3 linked regions of the Homo sapiens genome follow. The protein of the gene in region 2 interacts with the protein of the main gene of each other region in a pairwise test. Each region holds a gene or a part of one and is shown on either strand. Other genes may lie near its edges.

The links. Proteins that work in one complex are often made in the same cells at the same time.
Region 1: the proteins of P4HA2 (region 2) and CLNK interact in a two-hybrid assay, tested with the Homo sapiens proteins (one large-scale study listed by BioGRID and IntAct).
Region 3: the proteins of P4HA2 (region 2) and TNS4 interact in a two-hybrid assay, tested with the Homo sapiens proteins (one large-scale study listed by BioGRID and IntAct).

Annotation. Positions count from the first base shown.
Region 1 is NC_000004.12:10,678,269-10,681,768, reverse strand, and holds part of CLNK (cytokine-dependent hematopoietic cell linker), read left to right. Parts: intron 1-3,500. UniProt on the Homo sapiens protein: An adapter protein which plays a role in the regulation of immunoreceptor signaling, including PLC-gamma-mediated B-cell antigen receptor (BCR) signaling and FC-epsilon R1-mediated mast cell degranulation.
Region 2 is NC_000005.10:132,193,354-132,196,853, reverse strand, and holds part of P4HA2 (prolyl 4-hydroxylase subunit alpha-2 isoform 2 precursor), read left to right. Parts: intron 1-1,373; coding exon 1,374-1,442; intron 1,443-1,831; coding exon 1,832-1,928; intron 1,929-3,500. UniProt on the Homo sapiens protein: Catalyzes the post-translational formation of 4-hydroxyproline in -Xaa-Pro-Gly- sequences in collagens and other proteins.
Region 3 is NC_000017.11:40,477,624-40,481,123, reverse strand, and holds part of TNS4 (tensin-4 precursor), read left to right. Parts: intron 1-355; coding exon 356-424; intron 425-945; coding exon of another isoform or gene 946-1,281; coding exon 1,282-1,450; intron 1,451-2,475; coding exon 2,476-2,544; intron 2,545-2,790; coding exon 2,791-2,817; intron 2,818-3,394; coding exon 3,395-3,500. UniProt on the Homo sapiens protein: Promotes EGF-induced cell migration by displacing tensin TNS3 from the cytoplasmic tail of integrin ITGB1 which results in dissociation of TNS3 from focal adhesions, disassembly of actin stress fibers and initiation of cell migration.

The sequences.
Region 1 (3,500 bases), on a different chromosome or scaffold from region 2:
GTGCTCCATGAGTACCCTGCTGATGTTCCCAGGTTCATGATCAGGGCATCAATCACTGTCTTCCAAACTAGTCAACAGCATTTAAGGAACTCCCAGATACACCACAAGCATTAGCAAAATATGTATTTTAGTTGTTTCTTTTAAATTTCATTGGTGATACTAATTGAAACACTGCTTCCTAAACACTTATGCATGAGAATCAAAATCCTATTGTGTTTAAATGGTACTGTGGTTTGTCATTTGAACTAAGATGAGCCAAAAGGTCTAGATACAACATGAAAATTTAATATCCATGTGATTGGATGATAATCTTTAACAGTGGTAGGTTCTGTGTTCAATTTCGTGTAAGATAAAGATAAGGGCTGACTAATAGCCTAGGCCCAAACTCTGAGAGGGCTGAATTTTTGTGGACTGCCTAAGGACCACATTTCACCATCAGTTTTGAAGACCCAGAAAGCTAATTGTATCCAAGGCACACAGAGTTGATGGAGCTCAAGAGGTCAGTTCACTCTGGTACTTTGACCTATGTATCCATCTTTGGTGATTTTGTTCAAGTGTACTCAAATTATAAGTTCAGATGATTGGCATATTCCCTCCCAGGAGACAAATGTACACAGGAAACTAAATTGATATTGGGCAGTAGCTTGTTGAGCACTAAGTCAGAGCTGTGTAATTTCAAAAGCTGGATTTGCTGAGCTATGGGTGGTCTGATGCCTTGGCAGGCACCTGGAAAGCCAGTCTGCCCCATGGTTACCTGTAGAAATTTATATATATATATATATCAGGACGTCCTCACTCATGGGCAAGTCTAGGGATCTCCCGATCAGCTTTATCTGTCTGGACTCTTTACACAGGACACCTCCACACAGTCCCCATCCCAAACTCCTACTTCTGATACATGCTGTTTTCACTATACCACGCCATCCAGTCGTTGAGACATGGATAGTGTGGGTTTGAAATCAGTTACTTCCTAGCAATATGGTTTTAGACAAGTTATTTAACTCCTCAGAACCTCTGTTTATCCTTTATAAAATGGAATAAAAATATCTACTGCTCGAATTTGTGGTGAGAAATGAGATTCAGTACATAAAAATGCATATCATGGTGACTAGTAATTATTAAATACAAAGTAAATGGTAGTGGCTATTATCATCATTCTTAGCATTATTATTATGAGTTTATTTTATATTTAAACAAACCTTCCTTAGATTCTTGGCCTTTGTCCCTTTTTTGTCTTCTTTTTTAATTATTATTATACTTTAAGTTTTAGGGTACATGTGCACAACGTGCAGGTTTGTTACATATGTATACATGTGACATGTTGGTGTGCTGCACCCATTAACTCATCATTTAGCATTAGGTATACCTCCTAATGCTATCCCTCCCCCCTCCCCCCAACCCACCACAGGCCCCAGTGTGTGATGTTCCCCTTCCTGCGTCCATGTGTTCTCATTCTTCAATTCCCACCTATGAGTGAGAACATGCGGTGTTTGGTTTATTGTCCTTGCGATAGCTTGCTGAGAATGATGGTTTCCAGCTTCATCCATGTCCCTACAAAGGACATGAACTCATCATTTTTTATGGCTGCATAGTATTCCATGATGTATATCTGCCACATTTTCTTCATCCAGTCTATCATTGTTGGACATTTAGGTTGGTTCCGAGTCTTTGTTATTGTGAATAGTGCCGCAATAAACATACGTGTGCATGTGTCTTTATAGCAGCATGATTTATAATCCTTTGGGTATATATCCAGTAATGAGATGGCTGGGTCAAATGGTATTTCTAGTTCTAGATCCCTGAGGAATCACCACACTGACTTCCACAATAGTTGAACTAGTTTACAGTCCCACCAACAGTGTAAAAGTGTTCCTATTTCTCCACATCCTCTCCAGCACCTGTTGTTTCCTGACTTTTTAATGATCGCCATTCTAACTGGTGTGAGATGGTATCTCATTGTGGTTTTGATTTGCATTTCTCTGATGGCCAGTGATGATGAGCATATTTTCATGTGTTTTTTGGCTGCATAAATGTCTTCTTTTGAGAAGTGTCTGTTCATATCCTTTGCCCACTTTTTGATGGGGTTGTTTGTTTTTTTTCTTGTAAATTTGTTTGAGTTCATTGTAGATTCTGGATATTAGCCCTTTGTCAGATGAGTAGATTGCAAAAATTTTCTCCTATTCTGTAGGTTGCCTGTTCACTCTGATGGTAGTTTCTTTTGCAGTGCAGGAGCTCTTTAGTTTAATTAGATCCCATTTGTCAATTTTGGCTTTTGTTGCCATGCTTTTGATGTTTTAGACATGAAGTCCTTGCCCATGCCTATGTCCTGAATGGTATTGCCTAGGTTTTCTTCTAGGGTTTTTATGGTTTTAGGTCTAACATGTAAGTCTTTCATCCATCTTGAATTAATTTTTGTGTAAGGTGTAAGGAAGGGATCCAGTTTCAGCTTTCTACATATGGCTAGCCAGTTTTCCCAGCACCATTTATTAAATATGGAATCCTTTCCCCATTTCTTGTTTTTGTCAGGTTTGTCAAAGATCAGATAGTTGTAGATATGTGGCATTATTTCTGAGGGCTCTGTTCTGTTCCATTGGTCTATATCTCTGTTTTGGTACCAGTACCATGCTGTTTTGGTTGCTGCAGCCTTGTAGTATAGTTTGAAGTCAGGTAGTCTGATGCCTCCAGCTTTGTTCTTTAGGCTTAGGATTGAGTTGGCAATGCACGCTCTTGTTTGCTTCCATATGAACTTTAAAGTAGTTTTTTTTCCAATTCAGTGAAAAAAGTCATTGGTAGCTTGATGGGGATGGCATTGAATCTATAAATTACCTTGGGCAGTATGGCCATTTTCACGATATTGATTCCTCCTACCCATGAGCATGGAATGTTCTTCCATTTGTTTGTATACTCTTTTATTTCATTGAGCAGTGGTTTGTAGTTCTCCTTGAAGAGGTCCTTCACATCCCTTGTAAGTATTTTATTTTCTTTGAGGCAATTGTGAATGGGAGTTCACTCATGATTTGGCTCTCTGTTTGTCTGTTATTGGTGTATAAGAATGCTAGTGATTTTTGCACATTGATTTTGTATCCTGAGACTTTGCTGAAGTTGCCTATCAGCTTAAGGAGATTTTGGGCTGAGATGATGGGGTTTTCTAGATATTTGACCTGAAGAAGTTCTATTTTAAGGTGATTTCTACAGAAACTAATTTCATCATATTCTTATTTATTTTTTATTATTCATCTATCAAAGCCTTGGGTGTCTTACAATTCCTCAAATGTGCTAATCCTCTGAAAATATTAAGATTTAATGAAAAATAATAGAAATTATTTTGGAATACCTTCCTAGCCAAATTTCAAATCCTCAGAGTTTTTCACGGCACTGATGCAAAGAAATTACTCAGTAATTATCTGTGGAACTATTCTTGCATAGCGGTTTATACTTTACAGAGTGCTTTCACTTTCATCATCTTACTTGGTCTTCAAAATAATCCTATGAGCAAAGAA
Region 2 (3,500 bases):
ACTCTCCCTCTGTTGCCCAGGCTGGAGTGCAGTGGCGCTATCTCAGCTTACTGCAAACTCTGCCTCCCAGGTTCAAGCGATTCTCCTGCCTCAGCCTCCCAAGTAGCTGGGATTATAGGCGTGCACCACCATGCCCAGCTAATTTTTGTATTTTTAGTAGAGATGAGGTTTCACCATCTTGGCCAGACTGGTCTCAAGCTCCTGACCTCAAGTGATCCACCCGCCTTGGCCTCCCAAAGTGCTGGCATTACAGGCGTGAGCCACCATGCCCAGCCTAAACATCAGAGAGATTATTATGTAGTTATGGAGACAGGTGCTGTGAACCCCAGGCTTGGGGTTCAGTGGAGGCCTCTCTTTGGAAGTAACATATCAGTTGAGACTTAAAAGTTGAGTGGAAATTAGCTGGTAGAACATGGTTTCTGGCAGAAGAGAGAGTGTATGTAGTCCTGTAAGAGAAAAGGAACTTGGGATGTTGGAAAGGTAGAAAAAGGCTGGTGTGTCTGGAGAGAGGCTAGTGAGACTGACAGGGCCTTGGGGTTCTAGAAAAGAATCTGAGTTTGATCCACAGGGCTGTGAGAAGCCATCAGAGCTTTTGTCTTATTCATTTACCATATGTCTGTCAAGTACCCTTCAGTGAGTCTGGTATGTGTCCTGTGGAAATATTTTTTACCTCCAATTTTTATTAAATTATGGACAAAAAAAGTAAGAGAGCCAGATGGGAAAGAAGTAGTGCTTTGGCCATGAGTCAAGGCATGCTCTGTGGGCATGAGTACAGCCTTGCTAGTGTGGAACTTGTGTTCAATGTAGTTTAAGGCCTTACCATAGGAGAAAGCAGGGCCTCTAGAGACACAGTGCCCCACCCTTCCACTCAGTTGGCCCCAGGAAGGGTGGCTACTCTGGGAAGGTGAAGGTCTGACTAGAGCAGCAAACTACTAGAGCCAGAGAAACAGAGCTGCAGTGGGGACTGCACATGGTGTTGGAAACAGTACAGAGCTCCTGGTCAGGGCACTTTGCAGAGTACAGTGGCTTAGGCAAGGCCAAGGCTAGATGGGGATTCAAAGGGTGGGGTCAGAACAGGCATTTTCTGAGTACAGACTCAGATTATTTTCATCCAGGGACAGCCCGGATGTGGGTCTCCTGTGGGCCTCAACTCTTGAACACTCATGACATGGAGACTGTTCTAATGAATCACACTGGTTAAGTAGGCATGGGAAGAGCCTTTCTTGGCTAAAGGGCTGGCCATGGAGCAGACACCAAGTAGTGTCACTCATGCTGAGAGGAGGGCAATCTATATACCTTGTCATGTCCTTTGTGGCTCAATTGCTCTGAGAGCCTTGGGTAGGAGGGTCAAGCTCTATGTCTTATATTTCCAGATGAGTGATGTAGAAGCTGGTGGTGCCACCGTCTTCCCTGATCTGGGGGCTGCAATTTGGCCTAAGAAGGTAAGTTCTGATTCTTGTGGGTCAGAGGTTGAAGCAAGGCTCAGACTTTACTTTGTCCATGTCCCCCAGTACCATTACCTGGCCTGCCTGATTGTCACTGTGATGTGCCTTAGCCCACCTGGGGTCTGACCTGGTAGCCCAGCTTCTCCCTGTGAAGAAAGGACAGGGAGGGAAGTCCCTTCAGGGGCGGGTGAGTTCCCAGACTTCTACCTCAGAAAGGTAGGTGCTTTCTGGGAAATGTCTCTGTTGCTGGAGTCCCAGAGCCCTATCCCCTGTCCATGGGAAAATGAGGGTGTTTCTGCTCAGGGCAGAGCTTCTGTGATGCTTGCAGTCAGGTCCCTGAGCACAGTCTCTTAAGAATGTGTTCTGAAAGGCCATCTCTTTCCCAGGGTACAGCTGTGTTCTGGTACAACCTCTTGCGGAGCGGGGAAGGTGACTACCGAACAAGACATGCTGCCTGCCCTGTGCTTGTGGGCTGCAAGTGGGGTGAGTGTCTTAAGGGGTAGTGTTGGTGTTGGTGGCCTCAGCTTGGGCTTTGCTTATTGGCCTTAGATTCTGAGCTGGGAGGCAACTGCTGCCAAATTTGCTGAGACTGTCTCCCTTCTTAGGTTTTTTTCTGCTGTTATTACCATCCAGCCATGTAATGTCCATGCAGCTGGTAAATGCCAAGGCAGCTGGTTGGAAACACTCAGAGATACACAGGAAGCTGAAGAAGGCCTGAGGACGAATAGCTGCATAAGCACCATAGGTCCAGGACCCTCTGGCAAGGCTTCTGAGGGAGCAGAGTGGAGAGCTGGAAGCAGTGAGGGGAAAGAGTGTCTCAGGCAAACAAGGCCCATATGGATGGAGGCACAGGCTAAAACCAGCATACGGGTGTGGGGGCTGGCTCCCTTGTCACTTGAAGAAAGGGAGGCCTGTGGCACAGGGGCCAGAAGATGAGGCTGGAGGCTGGGACCAAACTGCAGAGGCTCAAGCTTGAGCCTTATCCTGGGAGCAGTTGTGGTGAGCCTCGGAGAGGCTCAAACCAGGATATGACAGGAAGTGTTTGTAAGGAGATGAGTGTGTAGCCCCCTTGGAGAGTTTTGAAGATAAATAGTGATAGGTTTGCAGATAATTAAGCAAATGGAAAAGAAAACAAGGCAGTTGCTGAATTCAGGGGAAAAAAAGTTGTACAAGAAAGGAAATGTAAGTATAATCTACTAGATGGCTCAGGTGTAACACATGATATAATTATGTACACACTGAGTATTACTTTAACTAAAACTTATGATTTACCTGTACTGGAAAGGTGGGAGGGGATGAGTTTGTGTTTTAGGGGTAGAATAAAAGAATTCCAAAGTTGAAAGTCAAGGAATAGAACTATAAGCATCTTATCTAGAAAAATGAGGTTAAATATCAGAAGAAACAGCTAGAGGAGTTTAATGTTCCCTGGGAGTGGAGATTAGGGATGGGAAGGAGAGGCTTAGGAGGAGTGCTATTTATCATTATAAGCCTTGCGACAATTTTATTTTTTTCAATGAAGTACATGTTATTACTTTATATTTTAAAAGCTCTGTGACTTCAGTAGTGCATTGAAATAAAATTTTTATTCATTATGAGAGAGTCTGTGAGGAACAGAATCATGGTTCCTGTGTGTTTGAAGATATGGCGTGGGGTGATAGTGCTGGCAGCAGCTCTGTTGCTCTTGTGCCCATGGCATACAGACTGGATCTGCTGGTCCACGGCTCCTGAGGTTAATGTCCAAGCCCTCTGCAATGCTGACAGTCTTCCTCATCCTCACACCCTACCTCTCAGTTTCTACCTGCCACCTCCCAGTAATATTAGGCCTCTTGAGTCCCCAACACACGTCAGGGTGGCTTCTGCCTTGATTACTTTCTCATCCTGTTGTCACTCCTGGGACCCTCTTGGTGAGAGAACCATCTGGGTATGCCCATCTTCTTCCCAGGATAACTTCTATGTAGCTTTATATTCTAGCCCTAGGATTTCCTCTTCCCTCTAAGAGCAAGAAACATGTGTGCAGGTTGCCATGGGAATAGAGCCAAAGGGCATCAAAGGTCA
Region 3 (3,500 bases), on a different chromosome or scaffold from region 2:
GAGCGATGGTGAGAGCCTCCTCGCTTTCTGCAAAGACAGGTCAGGGGTTGAGACAGGGTCCAAAAGAAGTGAGGAGGTCAGGGGCCTGTGAGGACAAGATCATGGCAGCCATCTAAGAGGTGGGGGGGCGAGGAGGGGATGAAGAGATCAAAAGGGTTGCAAACTAAGCATTTAGGGAGCCCAAAGTGGCCTGTTTGCCTAATTACGGTAATCACACCTGGTTTGAGTCACTTCCTGGAGATGGGGGTGGAGGTGGGAGATCTTCAAAGGGATTCATGAGGCCTGTTCCTGTGAGAGGGGTCCATTCACTCCACCCCCGCCCCTTTGGGGGGCCTGTTTCTTTGCCTTGGCTCAGAACTGGGAGGTGCAGATGGGGCCTCGGACTCTACAGACAGCCCAGCCTCCTGCCAGAAGAAATCTGCGGGTGAGTGGTACAGGAAGGGAGGCGCCAAGCTTGGCTGTGCCCCAAGAGGGCACCTCCCAACCCTGCACACACGCACGCATGCACGCACACACGCACAGGCACACACGTGTTTCCCATCTCAGCTTTGTTTCTGCATCTTTAACAAGGTGCCACACCCGCTCCCCATCACCCCTGTAAAACAGAAGATGAGAGGCCAGCAGGGAAGTGGGGCAGGGTGGGGGGTGGGGGGAGTGGCAGAACTTACAGTCCCTCCTGCACACACATGGGCATGTGCACACGTGCTAGGGTCTCTCTAGGTCTGAGAAACCTGCCCTAGAGGTGGTTCTGGGTCTGGGATCCTCTATGGGGTGTCAGGTCTAAGTCCTGGAGCCTTCACCAGGGGAAAGGTCCCTGACCCACACTCCCAGAGGCCAGCACACATCAGCACTTGTCTCAGTGACTGTTCCTGCTCTATGCCCTGAGCACGAACAATTTCCTTCCCCATTCTTGTCTTCTGTCCCTACCGTTGCCAATGAACCAAGACCTTGAAGATGGAGGTGTGGGGAGGAGAGCAGCCGTTAAGTGTGGACAGAAGGATGTTTTCCTGGGCACCTCTACACACAGGGCAACATCCCCTCCCCTGCCCCATGCTGGAGGGCCAGGGGCCAGGGCGATGCAAAGCCACAGAAGATCCCAAAGCCCTCTGGGGTTGGCCTCAAACTGTGATCACCCACACACCCACTTTCTGTTGGGTGGCGGCTCTAAGAGGAGCTCCACTGGATTCCTGAACAGGAGACTCACCCCCTCCCCTGGCCCTGGGCAGAGGGAGAACCTGGGCCCTGGGTCAGTGGCCCCAGCGCAGTGTCTGCCTCCCACAGGCTGCCACACCCTGTACCTGAGCTCAGTGAGCGTGGAGACCCTGACTGGAGCCCTGGCCGTGCAGAAAGCCATCTCCACCACCTTTGAGAGGGACATCCTCCCCACGCCCACCGTGGTCCACTTCAAAGTCACAGAGCAGGGCATCACTCTGACTGATGTCCAGAGGAAGTAAGGGCCTTCCCTTGCCCTGGGGCTCCGGGGCTGGCGGAGTAGAGCTGGAGGGGATAGCTGAGACAGCTGCAGATCAGGGATGAAGGTCAAGTTCAGGGTTCTGGATGACCCAGCGGGGCCAGTGATGTGCTGAGTGACTCCAGGCAGCTTCCCTGCCTCCTCCAGGCCTCACTCCACTGCCAAAGCCCCTGTTCATCATGACTGATGAAAATGGAGTTAACGGGGGCCGGGCACGGTGGCTCATGCCTGTAATCCCAGCACTTTGGGAGGCCGAGGCGGGCGGATCACCTGAGGTCAGGAGTTCGAGACCAGCCTGGTCAACATGATGAAACCCCGTCTCTACTAAAAATACAAAATTAGCCGGGCATGGTGGCACGCACCTGTAATCCCAGCTACTTGGGAGGCTGAGGCAGGAGAATTGCTTGAACCCAGGAGGCGGAGGTTGTAGTGAGCTGAGAGCACGCCATTGCACTCCAACCTGGGTGACAGAGTGAAACTCCATCTCAAAAAAGGAAGGAAGGAAGGAAGGAAATGGAGTTAACTAGTATTCATGGGTGCCGATTATGCCTGCACCCATTGATGGAACATCTTCCCTCGGCCAGACTGGCTGACCACTGGGACCCAGAGAGGAATGAGATCGTTCCTTCCCCAGGCTCGGATCTCACAGTCTAACAGGAGCCTGATCCAGGGCTGAGCACTTCACAGGGAGAAACAAGAGATGACCAAGATGTAATTCGTGTCCTCAAAAAGTTAGTGGCCAAAAAAAATTAAATGGCGTGGTAGGGGTGTGATAGAAAACCCCAGAGTGTAAGACAGAGGCAGACAAGCCCCATGAGAGGAGAGAGGCAGGAGCGGGGCGCCAGGGCCCCCCAGTGGGAAAGGCCATAGCGGTCTTCAAGGTCTAACCCAGAGACTTCTTGGAGGACAGGGCACCTGAGCTTGGGGGGAACGAGAGATGCTGGAGGCAGGATGACACTGGGACAGGCTGTCATCGCTTCCCTTCTCTCCCCGCCTCCTCCTAGGGTGTTTTTCCGGCGCCATTACCCACTCACCACCCTCCGCTTCTGTGGTATGGACCCTGAGCAACGGAAGTAAGTTCAAGGCTGGGCCAAACTAAGAAGGCTGTCCAGGGCCCCGCTGCCCACCAAGGCGTCCTGCCGACTCTGGGCCTGGGATCCCAGAGGGAGCCTGTGAACCTCAAGGGGTCAGGGTGACAGAATGAGGGTAGGGTGGGGCATGGTGGGGTGGGGACGCAGCTGGCCAGTCCTGCTGCTCCTCCAGGGTCCTGTGGCATGGAGCGAAGCCTCATTACTCGGTATCATGTTCTTTTCCTACAGGTGGCAGAAGTACTGCAAACCCTCCTGGTAAGGCCTTCCTGTCTCAGGGCCCCAAACCCAACATGGGGAGGGAACTGCAGAAGGAAAGAGGCACCATTCTGACTTTAATAGTCCAAAGTGTTGATGAGGGCACAGGCCCTGGTCCTCAGGGAGCTCCCATCTGATGGGAAAGACTTTGACTGCCCTCAGAGCCTCTGGGCTGTTGGGGGTGACATGAGCCTGGGAGCCCTCAATCTTCTGCAAGAGGCACAGGCTCTAACTTCAGGGAGCCTCAAGCTATTGGAATGTCCCAGTCTGATGATCAAGATGCATCCTTGCCCTCAGGGAGCTTCCACTCTAATGGGGAATGCACAGGTCCTGTCCTCAAGGAGCCCTCACTCAAAACAAAGGAAACCCAGAGCTTGAACTCAGAAATCTCCCAGTCTGACGGGAGAGGCATCTCCTTCCCCAGGGAGCCCCACCATAAGGAGGTGCTGGAGTCAATTGGCTAAGGGAGGGGCAGGGAGGAATGAGATGCAGGCTGAGGGCCCCCCACCACCCCATTCCCACCAGCCTGATGCCTCCCTGGGTCCCACCCCTCACTCAGACTGCCCTCCCCCACCAGGATCTTTGGGTTTGTGGCCAAGAGCCAGACAGAGCCTCAGGAGAACGTATGCCACCTCTTTGCGGAGTATGACATGGTCCAGCCAGCCTCGCAGGTCATCGGCCTG